Linked DNA regions of Homo sapiens: regions 1 and 2 are each reported to be linked to region 3. Evidence: microRNA targets listed by miRTarBase, many of them from high-throughput screens and not tested one by one. Region 3 holds a microRNA gene; each other region holds the end of a gene's coding sequence.

Region 1 (7,366 bases), not on the chromosome of region 3:
AACATTCATATGTATTAATTTGTTCAGCATATATTTATTGAGCACCTACTAGGTGCCGGGCACTGTGCTAGGTATTAGGACACGGTGGGGAGCAAAAATGGGTCTCCTATCCATGGAACTTACACACTAACAGGGAGACAGATCTTTGATCAAAGAAACAATTCAGGCCGGGCACAGTAGCTCACGCCCGTAATCCCAGCACTTTGGGAGGCCGAGGCGGGCAGATCAAGAGGTCAGGAGTTCAAGACCATCCTGATCAACATGGCGAAACTGTCTCTACTAAAAATATAAAAATTATCGCGCCACTGCACTCCAGCTTGGGCGACAGAGACTCCCTCTCAAAAATAATAAAATAAAATAAAATAAATAAAAATATAAAAATTAGCCAGACATGGTGGCACGTGTCTGTAGTCCCAGCTACTCGGGAGGCTGAGGCAGGAGAATTGCTTGAACCCGGGAGGTGGAGGTTGTGGTGAGCTGAGATCACGCTAGTGCACTACAGCCTGGGCAACAGAGGTAGACTCCATCTCTAAACAAAAACAGTTCACAGTTCATTGATTGCAATGGTGAAAAATAAAGTACAACAGAGACTTGGGCTGAAAAGGGAGGTATGTGGTGCTACTGAAATAACCTCTCACAAAGGATTTGAGCAGCGCTATTGACCCAGCTGAAACCCAAAGGAAGGACTTGATCACTAGGTGTGTATGTTGTTGTAAATTGTTTTTGCTTTTAGACCTCAGGTTTAGAGAACTAAGGTCATCATGACCCTGGGTTCATGGCACATTGTATCATCAAAGGCCCACTTGGGCACTTTCTTATTAACCTTTCATCTCCATTTTTCCTTCCCATTCCCTGTTTCCCCATACGTGGTTAATGATGAACTTATGAGAGAACCTGTTCTGTCTGGCTTTCTCAGAGAAAGCAGGTAGGTTGGGAGTTTGCCAAATGGGTATGATGAAAAGGTCATAGCTCAAGTGAAGGGGTTTTGGAAAGGCTGTTACTGGAAGCTGGATAAGGAGGGAAGAAAAGGAGCAATGGATTGGGGTAAAGTAATTATTGCACTGGAGGTCCTAATTACTTTGAAATCTCAGAGTATTGTGGATAAAGAAGAAAGATGGAAGGAAAGGGCCAGGCATGGTGGCTTATGCCTGTCATCCCAGCACTTTGGGAGGCCAAGGTGGGTAGATCACTTGAGGTCAGGAGTTTGAGACCATCCTGGCCAACATGGTGAAACCCCATCTCTACTAAAAATACAAAAACTAGCCAGGTATGGTGGCACATGCCTGTAATCCCAGCTACTTGGGAGGCTGAGGCAGGAGAATCGCTTGAACCCAGGAGGTGGAGGTTGCAGTGAGCTGAGATCGCACCACTGCCCTCCAGTCTGGGCGACAGAGTGAGACTCCATCTCAAAAAGAAAAAAAGTTGGAAGGAAACAGGACACCTGCATAAATAAGTTTGGAGATAGAGCCTTATGGTTGGAAACAGGACGCCTGAATAAATAAGTTTGGAGATAGAGCCGATCCTGGGTGATAAAATCCAAGTGGGATAGTTAGCTGAGGTGGAATGAAGGTCACTGTAGAAAAGTTCAGAGTGTTGGATGGTCACTGACATGGATACAGGATAACAGAAGGGGCTGAAGTGAAGCACAAGACAGGGAACCAGGGCCTAATACCCTTAAAGAATGAGAGCGAGTTAGGAGTGGTTGAATAGGGTAAGGTTTAGTTACAAGGGATGGAAAACACCAAAATTAATAGTGCTTAAACAAGATAGGCTGGCGCTTTGGTTTATGCCTATAATCCCAGCACTGTGGGAGATGGAGGCAGGCAGATCACTTCAGGTCAGGAGTTCAAGAACAGCCTGGCCAACATGGCGAAACCCCGTCTCTACTAAAAATACAAAAATTAGCTGGGCATGGTGGCACGTGCCTGTAATCCCAGCTACTCAGAAGGCTGGGGTGGGAGGATCGCTTAAACCCAGGAGGCAGAGGTTGCAGCAAGCGGAGATCACACCACTGTACTCCAGTATTCCAGCCCGGGAGACAGAGCGAGAGACTCTGTCTCAATGAAAAACAAAAGCAAAAACCAAGACACAAGTTCATTTCCTACACTCAAGACATTCAGTGTTATCTTGTCCTCATGGCACTCCTCAGTGTTGGAAGAACCAGTCTCCTTTGATCTTTTTTTCTTTTTTGAGACAGGATCTGGCTCTGTTGCCCAGGCTGGAGTGCAGTGGTATGATCACAGTTCACTGCAGCCTCAACCACCTGGGCTCAAGTGATCCTCCCACCTTAGCCTCCCAAGTAGATAAGAGGAAGAGCCTTCCTCTTATCTTGTTGCTCTGCATGGTACCAATTCCCAAAGCTACTTCAGTATGGCTACTGAACTTCCAGCTGTCGTGTCTGCATTCCAAACAATAGGAAGCAAGAATGGATAAAGGGGAAAATGTACCCTTCTTGTAAGAACACTTGCAAATTGTATACATCATTTTCTCTACCATTGGCCACAATTTAATCATAACTGGGAGGGAAGCTGGGAGATGTCATCTTTATTTTCAGCAGCCACAACCCCAGCTAAAATACTGGAACATTCTATTTCTTTTTTTTTTTTTTGAGACACAGTCTCACTCTGTCGCCCAGGCTGGAGTGCAGTGGCGCAACGTCCGCTCACTGCAAGCTCCGCCTCCCGGGTTCACGCCATTCTCCTGCCTCAGCCTCCCGAGTAGCTGGGACTACAGGCGCCCGCCACCTCGCCTGGCTAATTTTTTTTGTACTTTTAGTAGAGACGGGGTTTCACTGTGTTAGCCAAGATGGTCTCGATCTCCTGACCTCATGATCTGCCCACCTCGGCCTCCCAAAGTGCTGGGATTACAGGTGTGAGCCACCACGCCCGGCCCTGGAACATTCTATTTCTTTCTTTCTTTTTCTTTTTTTTTTTTTTTTTGGGACAGACTCTGTTGCCCAGGCTGAAGTGCAGTGGCGTGATCTCGGCTCACTGCAACCTCCGCCTCCTGGGTTCAAGCGATTCTTCTGCCTCAGCCTCCCGAGAAGCTGGGATTATTGGCACACACCACCACACCCAGCTAATTTTTGTATTTTTAGTAGAGACGGGGTTCACCATGTTGGCCAGGCTGGTCTCAAACTCAGGTGATCTACCAGCCTTGGCCTCCCAAAGTGTTGGAATTACAGGCATGAGCCACCGCACCTGGCAGGAACATTGTATTTCTAGAGAGGAATCAACTATTGAAGAATTGGCACCTTCTCCCAAAGGAAGCGCTGGGGAAGTCAGTAGAACACAAAGAACTGGATGAAAGGGATGTAGTAGAATGGCATGAGCCTGCAACGGGCAGGGTTTTCTTTGAACTGGGTGAACAGTCTGGCAGTGGTACGAGGACCCCGACTCCCCAGCCTGGGGAAGATGAGATATGTGAGGTTGAGGTTTGAGAAGAAAAGCCACCACTTGGAGGGGCTGCAGAAGTGGCTCTCAGAGGATAGCTGGTTTTCCATGAAGGCAAGGAGGGAGCAGAGAGCTAGCCTGGAAGGTTCACCAGAGGGCCCTTGGGAGTGGGTGAGTGGGAATGGAGCTGGGTGGGGGTCAGCAAGGACAGGGTTATTTGGTTACTGGATGAAAACACGGATGAAAAGCCAGTGGACTTGGTCTTGATAGTGTCTGAGGAGGGTGGGTCTTACTTGGCCACTGCGACCCAAACCAGAAACTGCTCCCCCTTCAAAATCCACGAGTTTACTTATCACAGCCAACCAGGTTACCTCCCATGCCATCCTTTGACTTTTGCATCAAGCACTTAATAAACTTAATATCTAACCCTTGGTACCAGCCCCCAAATTGTATGTTCGATACTATAAATTTGAAAGACATACATATATCCTTTCCAAGGGTCAGGAAAGAACATTCAAATGTCAAAAATGATCCGGAGGAGTCCCATACTGCTCAGGGTAGGTCGCTTTGCAAAGCAATGAGAAAAATCTCTGAAATAGTTGTTTTCCCCATAGCCATCATTTAACATTGTTTCATTATTATCAGTTTTTTCTCAGGGTGGCTACTCTACCAGGAGCACACAGAAGTGCTCAGCGCCCCCACCCAGCTCTCCTAGCCCTCAGGGATCTGGGATTATAGTCTCCATTCTCAGGCAAACTCCTTTTATCAAGATGTTGAACATTCTAGGGAGCCAACTGACTTGAGGTGTACAACAGAACAGTCATGAGGAAGGGACCTCTATCCACAGTCCTGTGAGCAAAGGAAGCAACAGACAGCTGCCAGCACAAAGTCTCAACACACTGCCTCCAGGAAGTAAGACTGCAGGATGGCGGGAAGCAGATGTAGTATGGGTGCGCCCAGCCCCCCTCACCATCTGTGGACCCCAGGCAATGCAGTCAACCTTCATTCATCCTTTATTGAAAAGGCGGGGAGGGGCTATCAAGTCCTTTGCTGAATTTTAGTGAGAATTAATTCAGATACATACCAAATGCCTCACACATGCGTGGCTTGAGCTAAGTGTTATACACAGCTATTATTTTTAATTCTATTACACATAAACTCCCTGAGGCCGGTGACAGTGCTTTGCAATAATAACTAATCAACAACAGTCAATGCAGTAAGTGAAGAGTAGAATTCCAGCATACTAAAGGGTTAGGATCTAGGGATGAGAGCCCCAACCACCTCTATCAGAAACAGAGCTGCTGGGCCAGCTGTAGTGGCTCCCACCTGTAATCCCAGCACTTTGGGAGGCCGAGGCAGGCGAATCACTTGAGGTTAGGAGTTTGAGACCAGCCTGGGAGACATGGTGAAACCCTATCTCTACTAAAAATACAAAAATTAGCTGGGTGTGGTGGTGTGTGCCTGTACTCCCAGCTACTCGGGAGGCTGAGGCAGGAAAATTGCTTGAACCCAGGAGGCAGAGGTTGCAGTGGGCCGAGATCACGCCATTGTACTCCAGCCTGGGTGACAGAGTGAGACTGCCTCAAAAAAAAAAAAAAAAAGAGAGCTGCTAATTTAGAAGCAAATAACAGGAATGCTGGGTTCTGAGGCCAGCCCTAAGACAGCCAGAAACGCTGAGAAACTTCCACAAGCAACAATTCCTTACATTCAGTGCAGTGTAGCACTTCAAGAGAAATCCAGAAAGTTTCAGTTCCAGATGAGAACAATGAGGTGGTGAGGGGCTGATCTGCATACTATTGCTGAATTTGTCTGCACCCGCTAACCCCAATGATGAGAAAAGGGAGCGCAAAACATCCCTCAGAGCCAAGGAGGCAATTGCACACCGGTGATCACTGGGTGTTGTGAAGTGGGCAACAGAAGCCCCTGTTCGGACCTCAGGAGTCCTAACTTTTCCTTGTCGCTCTTTTCTCTGAACCACATGCTGTTTCCTGGGCTGAGAAAGGGCATGCCATGTTAGAGCAGAACTGAAAATAGACACAGCCACAGAAGGAACATCAGCAGGCAGATTATCGAGTCCGCTGAGATTTTGGCATTTTGGTCCTTGTCTGTCCAAGATATTTTTGGAAATAATATGGGGTGCTCCTGAAGGTCATGGGGGAGGGGGCAGGACCCACTTAGGTGAAAAGCCATGGGGCCCAGGTGAGCCCCTGTGGCCAGTCAGCAGCTCCCTTCCAGGGTCCAGTTTCGGGCATTGATAAAGAGCTGGAGCCAGGGGGAGGTGGTCAGAGTATCAAATGGAGGGGGTCGCCATGCCCACTGCCAAGGCCTAACGGCCCGCTCAGGGTGAGGCATGACAGCCAGGTGGCGGCCATCACAGGAGCAGATGCCAGCCACGCCCCCTGGGGACCCATTGGGATTCAGAGGGTACTGCTCTGTGGGGTTCCCGTCATCATCAGCCCAGTGCAGTGGAGCCAAGCCCCTGGCCTCAATCTGAGCTTGGAGTTCCGGAGAAGAAAATGCTACGTAACCTGGGATGGAAGGAGGAGGGAAGTGAGAGCCAAGGTCCTTCATGCCCACCCTTGCCCCCAACCCTCGGGCCCTCCCCCAGCCTTCCTTGGGCCTGACCTTCCCCGTGCGCACTCCACACGGGCAGCACGGCGCCCTCCATCCCTCGCAGCATCAGGGCTGGCCCAGGCCCCACACGCACGCTGGCCCAGCGAGACTCGTAGCGCCCAGACAGGTTGTGGCGTAGCAGAAGGCCTGGCCGGGCTGGCTGGGAGTCAGGGCCCATCTCTGCAGCATCCTCATTGGGGTCGCCTCCCACCCAGCCGAGCAGAGCCAGCAGTTGACAGCCATTACACACGCCCAGGCTGAAGGTGTCTGGCCGCTTCCGGAAGCGCCTCAGCTCAGCCCCAGCCCTGGGATGAAAGGTCACAGCAGCTGCCCACCCTAGCAGGGAATAGGGAAGTCAGGGTGAGACATGGAGGACCTCAAAAAAGGGAATTGGGAATGAAGGGGCATAACTGCTCTGTTTCTTTTCTTTTTTCTTTCTTCCTTTTCCCTCCCTCCCTCCTTCCTTCCTTTCCTTCTTTCTTTTTTTTTTTTTTTTGAGATGGAATCTCATTCTGTCACCCAGGCTGGAGTACAGTGGCATGATCTCGGCTCACTACAACCTCTGCCTCCTGGGTTCAAGCGATTCTCCTGCCTCAGCCTCCCAAGTAGCTGGGATTACAGGCGCCCGCCAGCACGCCTGGCTAATTTTTGTATTTTTGCATGCCTGTAATCCCAGCTACTTGGGAGGATGAGGCAGGAAAATCGCTTGAACCCAGGAGGTGGAGGTTGCGGTGAGCCAAGATTGCGCCATTGCACTCCAGCCTGGGCAACAAGGGTGAAACTCCGTCTCAAAAAATACATATATATATATATATATATTTAAAAATATACATATTTTAATAATATATAAATAATATATATAAATAATATATTTTAATAATATATAAATAATATATATAAATAATATATATTTTAATAATATATAAATAATATACATTTTAATAATATATAAATAATATATATAAATAATATATATTTAATAATATATATTTTAATTACATATGTGTATATATATACTTTTTTTCAATGAAAAAATTAAAAATTTACTACCAGCCTTCTGTTGGCATGTGGCCCAGAACGAATGGGCCCACTCTCTCGTAGCTCGGTGGAGTGAGAGGCCAATCCCCAGCCCAGGAAGATGGGGCTAAAGGCACCTCTTCAGGAATGTGGGGGAAGGGAGTGGGCAGAAGCCTGCACACTGACCTTTGGCAGAGCCCAGGACATCTGCATAGCTGAAGCCGCCCACGAAGGCCACGCCACGGAAAGTGTCCAGCCCAATTGCCCCAGAGCAGAGGTCCTGCATGGTCACGTCCCATACCTGCGAAGGTGGGGAGGGGGAGTGTGGGTGGGAGGACACGCAG
Region 2 (7,366 bases), not on the chromosome of region 3:
GTCAGAGAGGAAGGACAGTTACAGCAATAGCAGTGGCTAGAGTAGTGGCACTTCTCGAGCCCCAGTTCTCCTAGGGTGTTGCAAAGAAGGACAGATGACGCCCGTGCATGCAGTGGGTCGCATCCCAGGAAAGGGGCTCGACACTTAGGGAACCCATATCTTTTATAATAGACAGCTTTGCTCTGCATGGAGACACTATCTCTAACTTCCAAGACTGTTTGCTATACATATAAACGTTCTTGAAAAAAGGGTCTGGAACAAAGGCAGTCTCACTCACAAGACATGCAGAAACATGAGAACCATGTAGAAATGTCTCCTAACAACTTGAACACTGAATTACAATTAAGTCTATACAGCGCCTATGTTTAGAATGCACTCTTCTTTACCCCCTGTGCTTGCTGGAACTAATTACCTCCTAGAATCCACTGGAACAAGGTGAGCCCAAAGAAGCCCACCCCGCTAGTTTCATTTACACCCCACCAAGGAGACTGAGCATGAAGAAAACACACACCAGACACTAATCTGCCCTTATTTATCCAATTGACTCAATAAAACAACAGAAAAGCAGGTTTCTCAAGGACTTCGTTTGTAGCTGTTCTAGTATCAGTCTTATTGAAATGTCTGCTAATGTGTTGTGATGGGAACACCCACAGAGACACGGGAGGCAGAGAACAATCCAGTCTTAAAAGAACAATCCATCCCCAGGCAAGATGTTCCAGTCAGCAAGAGAGAACTGGTTGGCCTTCATGGCCGCACAAGAAGGCTATTAGTGAAGCATTTCCAGCATTTGTTTCTGAGTGGGGTTGGGTGGGAACTCCATGAAGCCTGCACTGTTCTTTCTCACTCATAGAAGACTGAGAAGCCACTCCATTTTCACAGGCAAATTACAAACACACAGTGGGTTGTACCCCAAGCCCTCAAGGAAATGAGACTAGTTCTGAGGAATAATTCTCCAGGACTATTTGGGTTAAAATTAATTCAAGCAAAGAGAAACCAGTAGGGGAAAATAGTGGTATGCTTGTGTCCAATTTGAAAATGGCTTTCAGAAAGTTCCAACTACCCGATAGGAGTTTTGTTTTCTTAGACAACAGACAAGGGTCCCTGCCACCCACAGCACTTCTCTCTTAGGCTATGCAGCAGCACTGAAGCGTGCTGACTCCTTGACTCTGAGCACCCAAAGACAAGAGTCAAAGGAAGTAGATAGGGGCCATAGAGGGACAGATATGACTCATGACTACACAGGCTCACTCTCAAAGTGGCTAGATTCCAGGAAAGGTTCCCAGGAAGCAGAGGGAAGCCCCAGAACCTTTCACTCAGAGGCAAAAATAGGGTGGCTGAGTAGGGATGGGGATGTGTCCAGTAGCTGTGGACCTGCCACTCTCTTGCTAAACAGCAGTCATGTCAAAAACAGCTTAGGTTTCCAAAAGCTGATTTTGCACAGCACACAATCTTTTATGGAGACTTTAGGTGATTGTCTTAGGCTGTTTGTGTTACTATAAAGAAGTACTTGAGGGCAGGCAATTTATACAGAAAAGAGGTTTATTTGGCTCGTGCTTCTGCAGACTGTATAGGAAGCATGGCACCAGCATCTTCTTTTGGTGAGGACCTCAGAAGTTTCCAATCACGGCAGAAGGAGAGCCGGCTTGTTACATGGCAAGAGAGGACGTAAGACAGAGAGGGGAGGAGGTGCCAGGCTCTTTTTAACAACCAGATCTAGAGGGAACTAAGAGTAAGTACTCACTCAATCCCAGGAGAATGGCACCAAGCCATTCATGAGGGGTCTGCCCCCATGACCCAAACACCTCTCACCTCCAACACTGGAGATCAAATTTCAAAATGGGATTTGGAGAGGACAAATATCCAAACTATGTCAGTGATAAATAAGTAAAAACCTGTTTAATTCCTGTGTTTCAGGAATTGAAAATCACCTTGTCCTGAGCTGCTCTTTCTCAGGAAACTGATGGCTGGATACTCCTTGCTCAGCTGCTAAGCCCAAGTCCAGGAGCTTTATGTTATGGGGAAAAGGCAAGAGGACTCTGGATAAGGAGGGCCAGCATCACAGGGCCTGGCTGCACTGCAGATGGGGAGCAGGGAGTCCCTCAGTTCCCAGGAGTGAGGAAGAGCCCCACAGGTGGCTGGGATCTCCTCCATCCACAAGGCCTCCTCCCCTACCCTGCCAGCTCAGGGACCTGGCTCACTTTAAATGTGGCTTCTGGGGTTCACTCTTGTGAGTGGGACTAAGAGTAATTCCCTAAGAGTGGCAAGAAAGTCTAATGGTTATGGGACTTTGGAGCCAAATAGGTTTGGGTTTGAATCTCAGTGTTGTAGCTGTGTGGACTTAGGTAAGCTGCTAAGCCTGAGTTTATTTTCTTATCTGTAAAATGAGAATGCCACCTGCCTCATAAGGTTAAGGTCAGGATTAAATGAGATAAAGCATGCACTTAGCACAGTGCTTTTATTATGATCGTTATAAATGGAAGCCACTCCATGAAGTTTACATTGAGATTTCCCAATGTTCAAGTGAGCGCGGCACTAGAAGTTGGATAATTTGGAGCCATTGCCCTAGTGAGAAGACTCTGTATGAGAAATAGTGAGTGTGCTAATACCACAGCTGCCACCTGCTGTAATAGCATAAACATGGAGAGCTGAGGTCAGGCTAATGCATCTGGCCATCCAATGGCACAAGAGTGACCCAATGGCCCAGCGATGCGCAAGCTGGAGAGCTTGAAAACAAACACCCCAGCTCTTGTCCTGGAGACGCTGATTTAACTGGTCAGAATTGACTGAGGCCTAGGCTTCCATTGTTTTTAAAGCTTCCCAGTGATTCAAATGTACACTCAGATCTAAGAACCACAACTCTAGCTGGGAAGAAAACAGTGGAGTTTTCTTGAATCTTTTGTCATTTTCATTCAACTGGCAAACACACAATCTCTTTGATGGGCCAAGCCTAGGACCAGATGCTTGGTGAAGTCCAGATTCCCAGCCTCGAGGATCCCAGATTCTAACAGAAGACACCAACAAATGGATAGGCAATAATGATACTGTGGATGCGTCTATGACAGAGTATAGGCTGGAGCTGAGGGGGAACACACCTAGGAGGGGGTCTAACCCAGCTCTCTGGATACAGCCTGTTGGCAGAGGGGGCGTTCTGGGCCAAGGCAACAGATTTTACAAAGCACCAGAGAAGAAAATACATAGAACACGCCAGAAACTCCAAGGAATTTGGCAGAACTGGGCATGAGCACAAGGCCAAAAGATGAGGTGGGAGAGGCAGAGACAACATTTCTCATAAGGCATGCAGAGGGTTCGGGTTTCAAGCAGGGGGTGGAGTCGTCAGACTATTCTAGCAACTGGGTGGAGGATGGATCAGAGGGAGACAAGCCTGGACATGGAGAATCTGTTCCCAAGGTGGTGGCAGCAATCCAGGAAAGTTGGACATGGGATAGGTTTGAGAAGTATTCACAGAGGACAAGCTGGGTGACTGGGAGCATACTGGGGAGTCAAGGAAGAGGCCCAAACTTCTTGCTGAAGCACTCACGGGGATCAGGGCAGGAGGGAAGGTGGGGAGGAAGTGTGTGGTGGGAGCAGAGGCCTTTGGAGGAAAAGTCAATTCTTACTTCATCTGAGACCATCACATGGGCTGGTCAATTAAGCCTAACAGAAATCCTGCCCATTCTGTATTTTTCCGACTTCCATGGTGCAAGGCATTCTAACAAGTGGAATAGTTTACTAATTTGAAATGTTTTTGAGGGTTCTTGTAAGATGGCAAAGAGGAGTTTTAATTAAATGAAAGGAGCATGGCCTAGGACAGTGCCAGGCTGAGCACACAGAGCTCGTCTTCTTTCTCAGCCCAAGAATGTGGCCCAGCTCCTTTGCTTTCACCACCTGATCTGAAGATGCCTGAGGAGAGGGCCAGGATTACATGCCTAGAAATCCTTGAAAATGAAATGAAACGAGGTGAGGTGCTTGGTCCTCACCTCTGCAGAGAAACTGACACAGCAAAACCATCATGTTAACGTGTTGTGCAAGCCACACATGTCAACAGGCTTGTAAGCAGCTCCATTTATTTGAGTAAATATCTTGTAAATAAATCATTGGTAAACAATACAAAATTAAATACATTTTCAAAAGCTTGCCAGTATACGCAAAATTCACAAACATAGTTTTTTTAAAAAATAAAATATGTTCAGAGCACCCTTGATATAAAATGCCTGACCCCCATCCTTGGACAAGGCCACCTGAAGACATCTTATGGTAGGTGGGTTTCTGTGGGAGTCAGCGGGGGCCTCCTGGAGGGAAGGGTTTCTACTCTCACCTATTACCCATCCCACATTCCATCTGAATTTTGATCCTTCTCCAAAGAGCTGGTAACTGAGAGGGCTAGAGCACGCCACCAGGCCTAGCTCCAAGCACGGGGATCAGGGTGCACAATTAGGGCCAGGAGCACCCAGAGTCCTCAACACAAGCCATTGAGAGAAGCCAGAAATGCAATCTCCACACTTCCAAACCAGCAACTCAGCTCCTAGAGCAACTGTCTTGAGAGAATGTGAGGCTTTCTCACCTTGACACTTAACACTCGGTTTACTCCCACTGGTCTGATACTACCCAGGCACAGAAGCTACCAGAACCTATTTCTAAGGAAGAAGACACTCGATCTGCTAACTTTCTTTTGATCTGCTTTCCTGGAGAGAGAATAAACACAGTACTCGGTGGAAAGCAGACAATTCACTGCTACACAGTGCTTCCTTTTTCCAATGCAAAATACCACTGAGATAGTGTGGATATTTCTCTAGAAATCAAGTTAGTTCTTCAAATTAAGGGTTCATACAACTTTAAAAGACTACAAAATGAGACAATAAGCACATGACCTGGCAAAGCATCCCAACCAATGAAATAATAGAAATTCCATAAATTAAGCCCTTGACCAACTTAACATTTCTGTGGTGTAGTGCATTAAAATAACGGATACACTGAATTCTTTCACTTTGGTGCATAAAGTGAACGTTGAAGTCAGCAGCACTCAGTGAAGAATGCCTAGTGGCCTCTTGAAAACACATGTGCTGGGACCTCCAGTTAAAGGACAACCACAAGTTTATTCCATCCATGTGAAATAAAACTCACATCAACATTTTAACTTAGTTGTGTGTAGATATATACAAGTGTGAGAAATTTGACAGCTGAGTCAAATGTACAACTTAAGAAAAAAAATATTACCAAACTACTTGTAAGAAAACTATCTTCCCTGTATCATAAGGTACTGAACATCTGAGTCCTTGCAGGAAACGCAGCCTGGCGTGGCCCTTCCTTGAGTGTCCACCTCCTTTGATAATCCTTGGTTAGGCTGTGGCTAGAGTCATGATATCTTTGCTATTAAAATATTACATTAACAAAAACCTTTAAAACCAAAAAAAGAACGCTCTTGAATAAATGTCTAATAGACCCCCCCACCTTCACACCAAAAAAGAAAAAAAAAAAAACAAAAACGTTGTTCATAAGGACACCTATTCTTTCACAAAAGTCTTCATGAAGTACAAATCCCAGGACTCTTTCTTCGTCTCTGGGAGAGTTTCACCCTGTTCCAGAATCATACACTCTTCTTCTGCGGAGGGCTCAGTTTCCTCATGCCTCTTATCCGAGAAAGCAGCTCTTTGATAAATTCCTAAAAGAGATCAGAAGAAGTTAATATGAGGGTCACTATTAAAATTCTGTGTTTAAAAATCTGCTTAAAGTAATTGATGTCAACTGCAGTTAACCTTAGTTGATGAATTTGGTTGAATGTGTTAACCCCCACTGGTATAATACAGGATTTTTAAAAACAAATCAAGAATACTAAAACTTCACACCACAATGCCTTCTTATTGTTCTACTTTCTTTACGGGGGAAACCAGGCTACTTTCACTACTGACATGACCTACTTGGCCCCTGAGGCATTTGTGTTGAGATCAGAGCTATTTAACATTACCATGCAAATAAATTAACTGGTGATCTCACAGATTCTGAGTGAGCCTGTCCAGGTTGGGGTCTGAGATTCTGCATTTCCAACTAGCTCACAGGTGATGCCAGTGTTAGTCCTTGAACCTCACCAAGAATGGCAAGGCTGGACTAGTGTGCCTCAAATTTGAGTGTGCATCAGAATCACCAGGGGGACTGCTATGGTTTGAATGTGTCCTCCAAATTTCATGTATTGGAAACTTAATCCTCAAATTAATATGTTGATGGCATTTGGAGGTAGGGCCTTTGGGAGGTAGTTCGGATTAGATAAGGTCATCAGAGTAGGGCCCCCAAGATGGGACTGGTGACTTTATAAGAAGAAGAAAGTCCTGAGCTGGCACACACTTGTCCTCTCACCATGTGACAACCTCCACCATGACATGACGCAGCAAAAAGGCCCTCTCCAGATGCCAGTGCCATGCTCTTGGACTTCCCAGCCTCCAGAACTGTGAGCTAAATAAACCTCTATTATAATAAAATACCCAGCCTGTGATATTCTCTTACAGCAACAGAAAATTGACTACTAAGACAGGGACTCATTAAGGACCACACAGTGCTGGGACCCACCACTAGTGTTTGTGATTCAGTAGATCTGGGTGGGGCCCAATAAGGTACATTTCTGACAAGCTCCCAGGTGACACTGATGCTACTTATCACTGGAGAATACTGCACACCACTGGTGTAGATCACACTAAGAGTCTTTGAAGTTTTTTGACAGCAAACTATAGATAAAAAAACCACACCAAAACAAAAACACACTTTATGTTACAATCCGGTACCTACAAACACACATCTGAAATTAAAACTTACAGGATACTTACTACATGCCATGCACTCTGGTATTTCTATTCTACTCTAATTTCATTTACAAAGTAATGCTAGGGAAGACTCACTAAAAGGATTTCATGACCTGTAAATCGATCAGAACCTAAAGACTGAAAAATGATCCAGAATGGTTCCCACTTTACACAATCAGGAATCTCTCATTGTTGCCTCCTGTTTTAAAATGTTTGGCCACCAGATAAGTCATATTTATTAGGTAACAACTACCTGGTCTTCCTGTTTTATATTTGTCAAATACAAAGCTAACAGCCAATCAGACTTTCTGATCAGCAAGCGACAGTCAGTAAGTGACAGAACTGAGCACATCAGGGACTATCTGAGAGCAAAAACACCGAGGAACTTTGCTGTCCATGGAGCCATCTGAAAAACAGCTCTCAATCTCCCTTATCAATTATAATCCTCACTCATGAGCTCCCAGACTAAATGAGCCCTGCACTACTCTCTGGCTATAAAGCACAGTAACCCTAAATATTTAATATTATATTAGCACCAAAATTTATTTTATGAATAATCTTTTCCCTATTATAAAAGT
Region 3 (5,000 bases):
GACCCACATGAGAAGAGATGGGATGGGCTAGGTAGGTTTTTTCAGTCAGTGCTGGTAGATAGGCCAGGAAGCCTTGGGTTGGTGGGTAGGATCAGTCAGGGGCTCCTTGAAAGAGGATACTCCTGCCTCTGCCTGATTCTGGTCTCTGCTCAGGTCCTCCACCTTCTGGGCCCCAAGTTGGAGGCTGATCTGGAGAAGAAGTTCAAGGTAGGGATGGGCATGGCCCTGAGTCCCTGAGGGTGAGGTGAGGTATGGTGAGACTTCAGGCTGGGGAAGGAAGTGTCTGACCACAGGGATCCCAAGACCCTATCCAAGAGAAAATTTGATGCCATTTTCTGAAGCACCTGGGGCTTCTTTCAGGTGGCAAAAGCTCGGCTAGAAGAAACAGACCGGAGGACGGCAAAGGATGTGGTGGAGAATGGTGAGAAGCTTGAGACTCCTGTCACAGCATTCAGCTCCCTGACTTCTGAACCTCCTCAGAAGAGTCCTTACAGGCTCCTCAGGCCCTTGGCTTACTCAGTACCCTGACTTCTGTCTCAAGACTGGGATTCCTGGTGTTTCTTTTGTTCCCTTTGCCCAGAGACTGGCATGAGAGGCCTCAGATGTCTGGCTCTAGATATCTTGTCTCTGGAATTGAGGGAATAGGGGTCTACTCAGTTCTGTTCTGGCTGTAGGATATGGTAAATGTATCTAGAGGACAAGTTTTCCTTGTTTTGTTCCCCACAGGCGAGACTGCTGACCAGACCCTGTCTCTGATGGAGCAGCTCCGGGGGGAGGCCCTTAAGTTCCACAAGCCTGGTTAGTGGGCATGTCAAAACCCTGGGGAGGGCTGGATCTTGGCAGCAGCTCCTATAGTCAGGCCCCTGGGGTCAGAGGCTTTGGCTGCAGCCTGGTCCTTAGGCTTATTCTGGTCCTGGCAGGTGAGAACTACAAGACCCCAGGCTATGTGGTCACTCCACACACCATGAATCTACTAAAGCAGCACCTGGAGATTACTGGTGGGCAGGTGTGTGGGGATGTGGCCATGTGAGCTTGTGCCATCAAACACCTGCCTGAGTGCCTGGGCTGCGTCCATACTGCCCCATCTCACCCATCACCATGGCCTTCCTGGGAGGGAACATCTGTTTCTTTAAGGTCATCTGAGCTCAGACTTTATTTCTCTTTTCCCATCCCCCTTATTTTAGGTACGTACCCGGTTCCCGCCAGAACCCAATGGAATCCTGCATATTGGACATGCCAAAGCCATCAATTTCAACTTTGGCTATGCCAAGGTAAGCATGTGTCTAGGGACCTGGCAAGCAAGATGACCACTTGCTGTTCCCATGAGTGGATACCATATCCCTGCCTTGCTGTCTGCTCCCAATAATGTACCCAGGTGGGCAGAGGCCATGGAAAGGAACCACATGTGTGACAGATACCTAGGAATCTATTGAGCTTATTGGAATAAATAGCTCCCTCCCTCTGAGGAGTCAGTGAGTTCAAATTTGGGGGAGTTGCCAGTGCAGTCCCTAGGCTTAGAAAGATGCTAGGTTAGATACAGGAAGGTGAGAGAAGCTCTTGAAGACATTTTTAATTCTGACATGAGTCCGGGTTGGGTGGCTCACGCCTGTAATCTCAACACTTCGGGAGGCTAAAGTGGGTGGATCACTTGAGGTCAGGAGTTCGAAACCAATCTGGCCAACATGGTGAAACCCCATCTCTACTAAAAATACAAAAGTTAGCTGGCCATGGTGGCACACGCTTGTAGTTTCAGCTACTGGGAAGCTGAGGCAGGAGAAACCCAGGAGGTGGAGGCTGCAGTGAGCCAAGATGGTGCAAGATAATCAAGACTCCATCTCAAAAAAAAAGAAAATTCTGACATGAGAGTGCTCTGTGAATATCCTAGTTTGATAAACAGGATTGTGGGGCTGATGGATGATGTGGGAGTTCACAGATGGTGCAACTTTCCTAGGCCAACAATGGCATCTGTTTTCTGCGTTTTGATGACACCAACCCTGAGAAGGAGGAAGCAAAGTTCTTCACGGCCATCTGTGACATGGTAGCCTGGCTAGGTATGGACTAGGCAAAGCCTAGAAGGGCTGGTGGTTAGTGGGCCTCTCCTTGGGCCATGGCCTGCCCACTGGGTGTTTGTGGCTGGCTGCTCATACTTTGTTTCATTTTGCCCCAGGCTACACACCTTACAAAGTCACATATGCGTCTGACTATTTTGACCAGCTATATGCGTGGGCTGTGGAGCTCATCCGCAGGTAAGGCCAGGGCCATGACGTAGAGCCAGGCAGACTGACTAGGTCACAGCCATGCTGGGCACTCACACCGCTTCCCCACAGGGGTCTGGCTTATGTGTGCCACCAGCGAGGAGAGGAGCTCAAAGGCCATAATACTCTGCCTTCACCCTGGAGAGACCGTCCCATGGAGGAGTCACTGCTGCTCTTTGAGGTGGGGTCCTAGAGGAGCATCTGGGTTTGGGTGGGCCAAGGTGCTGAGAATGAGATGCTCCTGTGCTTAGAGACAGCCTGAGTCCTTGTTCCCCTCAGGCAATGCGCAAGGGCAAGTTTTCAGAGGGCGAGGCCACACTACGGATGAAGCTGGTGATGGAGGATGGCAAGATGGACCCTGTAGCCTATCGAGTCAAGTATACACCACACCACCGCACAGGGGACAAATGGTGGGTGTAGAATGGGGTGGGGTGGTGGGGCTGCCGAGCAGGGCGATGGGCCATGGGGTAGGGCAGAGTAGGGCTGGATGGTAGGGCCCACTGCCTATGCCCCACAGGTGCATCTATCCCACCTACGACTACACACACTGCCTCTGTGACTCCATCGAGCACATCACTCACTCACTCTGCACCAAGGAATTCCAGGCCCGGTGAGGGAGCTGGGTCCATGGGGTGGTAGGGCCAGTGGAATTCCAGCAGCCCTTCCTGTGGTCTCTGCCTGGTTCCAGAGCTGGCCAGTGCTAACCCTACTCTCCCACCCCAGACGCTCTTCCTACTTCTGGCTTTGCAATGCACTGGACGTCTATTGCCCTGTGCAGTGGGAGTATGGCCGCCTCAACCTGCACTATGCTGTTGTCTCTAAGAGGAAGATCCTCCAGCTTGTAGCAACTGGTGCTGTGCGGTAGGTGCGGCTGTTTGGCTTATGAAAGGTTAATGGCATATGCTCCCAAAGGCCTTCTCACCACCTTCTTATCCACAGGGACTGGGATGACCCACGGCTCTTTACACTCACGGCCCTGCGACGGCGGGGCTTCCCACCTGAGGCCATCAACAACTTCTGTGCCCGGGTATAGCCCAGCAGGTTGGGTAGATACATTGGGGGTTGAGTGTGGCAGTTTGTGATTGTAGCTGTGACTGATGCTGAACTTTCCTGCCAGGTGGGAGTGACTGTGGCACAAACCACAATGGAGCCACATCTTCTAGAAGCCTGTGTGCGTGATGTGCTGAATGACACAGCCCCACGAGCCATGGCTGTGCTGGAGTCACTACGGGTCATCATCACCAACTTTCCTGCTGCCAAGGTGGGCCTGCCTCAACATGTGTGTCACATGTGTGTGTGTAGCTGGGGGTACACTTGGCTCTGGGCATGGGGGTCCTAATGCTGAGTATGACTCATACCTGTCTCCTGTCTCCTGCTATAGTCCTTGGACATCCAGGTGCCCAACTTCCCAGCTGATGAGACCAAAGGCTTCCATCAGGTTCCCTTTGCACCCATTGTCTTCATTGAGAGGACTGACTTCAAGGAGGTAAATTGTGGGGGTGGAGGGTCCCGTTTGCTGCTGAGTCTGGTACTGGGAACCTTTCATCTCCTCATCTCTGTCAGTCCATCTACTTCCTGCTTCAGATGAACCAATCTTTGCCAGACACGGGGGTAGGGAAGCTTCCCCACTTGTTTGACCCTTGCAGCCTCATGTGTCTACCCCACTTCCTATCTCTAGGAGCCAGAGCCAGGATTTAAGCGCCTGGCTTGGGGCCAGCCTGTGGGCCTGAGGCATACAGGCTACGTCATTGAGCTGCAGCATGTTGTCAAGGTGAGAGCCAGCTGCAGCCTTCCTACTGCAGTGCCTGCTGGGGCCAAGATGTGAGTATAGCCTGCAGTCCTGGTTGTGGTTCCCGGGTCTAATTGCTGCTCCCCTCCCCCCACTTCCAGGGCCCCAGTGGTTGTGTAGAGAGTCTGGAGGTGACCTGCAGACGGGCAGATGCTGGAGAGAAGCCAAAGGCCTTTATTCACTGGGTGTCACAGCCTTTGATGTGTGAGGTTCGCCTCTATGAGCGACTGTGAGTGAACAGAGCTGGGGTGGGGGCAGGTACAAGATGCACATTGCCTGCTATGGCTGCCCAGCTGGGGGTATGACCTTCACTTTGGCTGCAGATTCCAGCACAAGAACCCTGAAGATCCTACTGAGGTGCCTGGTGGATTTTTAAGTGACCTGAACCTGGTAGGTTCATGAGGTTTGGGGTGAGGGAGGTAGGCCTCCCTGGTTGGATGGTTGCCTGAGTTCCCTGCCTGCAGGCATCACTACACGTGGTGGATGCAGCATTAGTGGACTGCTCTGTGGCCCTGGCAAAACCCTTCGACAAGTTCCAGTTTGAGCGTCTTGGATATTTCTCCGTGGATCCAGACAGCCATCAGGGAAAGGTGCTTGACTTTACTCACCTGCCCTCATCTGCAGCAGTGACAGTGGCTGCCGTTCATTGTGCCAAGTGCTCTGCATACATTCCCTTAGTTAATCCTCACCACCTGAGGGAGTTGGTATTCATATTCTACTAGTGAGGAAACTGGCACTGAGGATAACTCCAGGCACAAAATTTTGTATGAAGGCTGCCTTTTTTTTTGAGACAGTCTTGCACTGTCGCCCGGGGCTGGAGTGCAATGGCACCATCTCGGCTCACTGCAACCTCTGCCTCCCAGGTTCAAGTGATTCTCCTGCCTCAGCCTCCCGAGTAGCTGGGATTACAGGCGCCTGCCACCACACCCGGCTAATTTTTTGTATTTTTAGTAGAG

The links. The annotated mature microRNA hsa-miR-6890-3p reads CCACUGCCUAUGCCCCACAG and lies in region 3 at 2,753-2,772, shown strand. An mRNA with a match to its seed (bases 2 to 7 or 8) in the 3' UTR can be bound and repressed. Matches are read on the target gene's strand: a 7mer-m8 pairs with bases 2 to 8, a 7mer-A1 pairs with bases 2 to 7 and ends in A, and an 8mer does both.
Region 1: miRTarBase lists PFAS as a target of hsa-miR-6890-3p. The part of its 3' UTR that is shown has no 7-base or 8-base seed match.
Region 2: miRTarBase lists PPP1R14C as a target of hsa-miR-6890-3p. Seed matches in the 3' UTR shown: 7mer-A1 at 4,726-4,732.

Annotation. Positions count from the first base shown.
Region 1 is chr17:8,267,508-8,274,873 of GRCh38, reverse strand. PFAS (phosphoribosylformylglycinamidine synthase) reads right to left here. Exons shown (of 28, transcript NM_012393.3): 26 at 7,209-7,323; 27 at 6,018-6,341; 28 at 4,388-5,920. The coding sequence ends at 5,610. Among named protein-coding and RNA genes, the nearest start is that of RANGRF, 17 kb to the left of the region's middle.
Region 2 is chr6:150,247,039-150,254,404 of GRCh38, reverse strand. It overlaps PPP1R14C (protein phosphatase 1 regulatory inhibitor subunit 14C), which reads right to left. Exons shown (of 4, transcript NM_030949.3): 4 at 4,013-5,659. The coding sequence ends at 5,585. Among named protein-coding and RNA genes, the nearest start is that of PPP1R14C, 110 kb to the right of the region's middle.
Region 3 is chr3:49,097,626-49,102,625 of GRCh38, reverse strand. MIR6890 (microRNA 6890) reads left to right here and starts at 2,712; the gene lies at 2,712-2,772. It overlaps QARS1 (glutaminyl-tRNA synthetase 1), which reads left to right. Exons shown (of 24, transcript NM_005051.3): 6 at 154-207; 7 at 361-421; 8 at 727-798; 9 at 921-1,006; 10 at 1,185-1,271; 11 at 1,952-2,051; 12 at 2,168-2,246; 13 at 2,328-2,436; 14 at 2,535-2,665; 15 at 2,773-2,865; 16 at 2,979-3,116; 17 at 3,195-3,282; 18 at 3,373-3,516; 19 at 3,637-3,741; 4 more. RefSeq lists an enhancer at 1,772-2,272.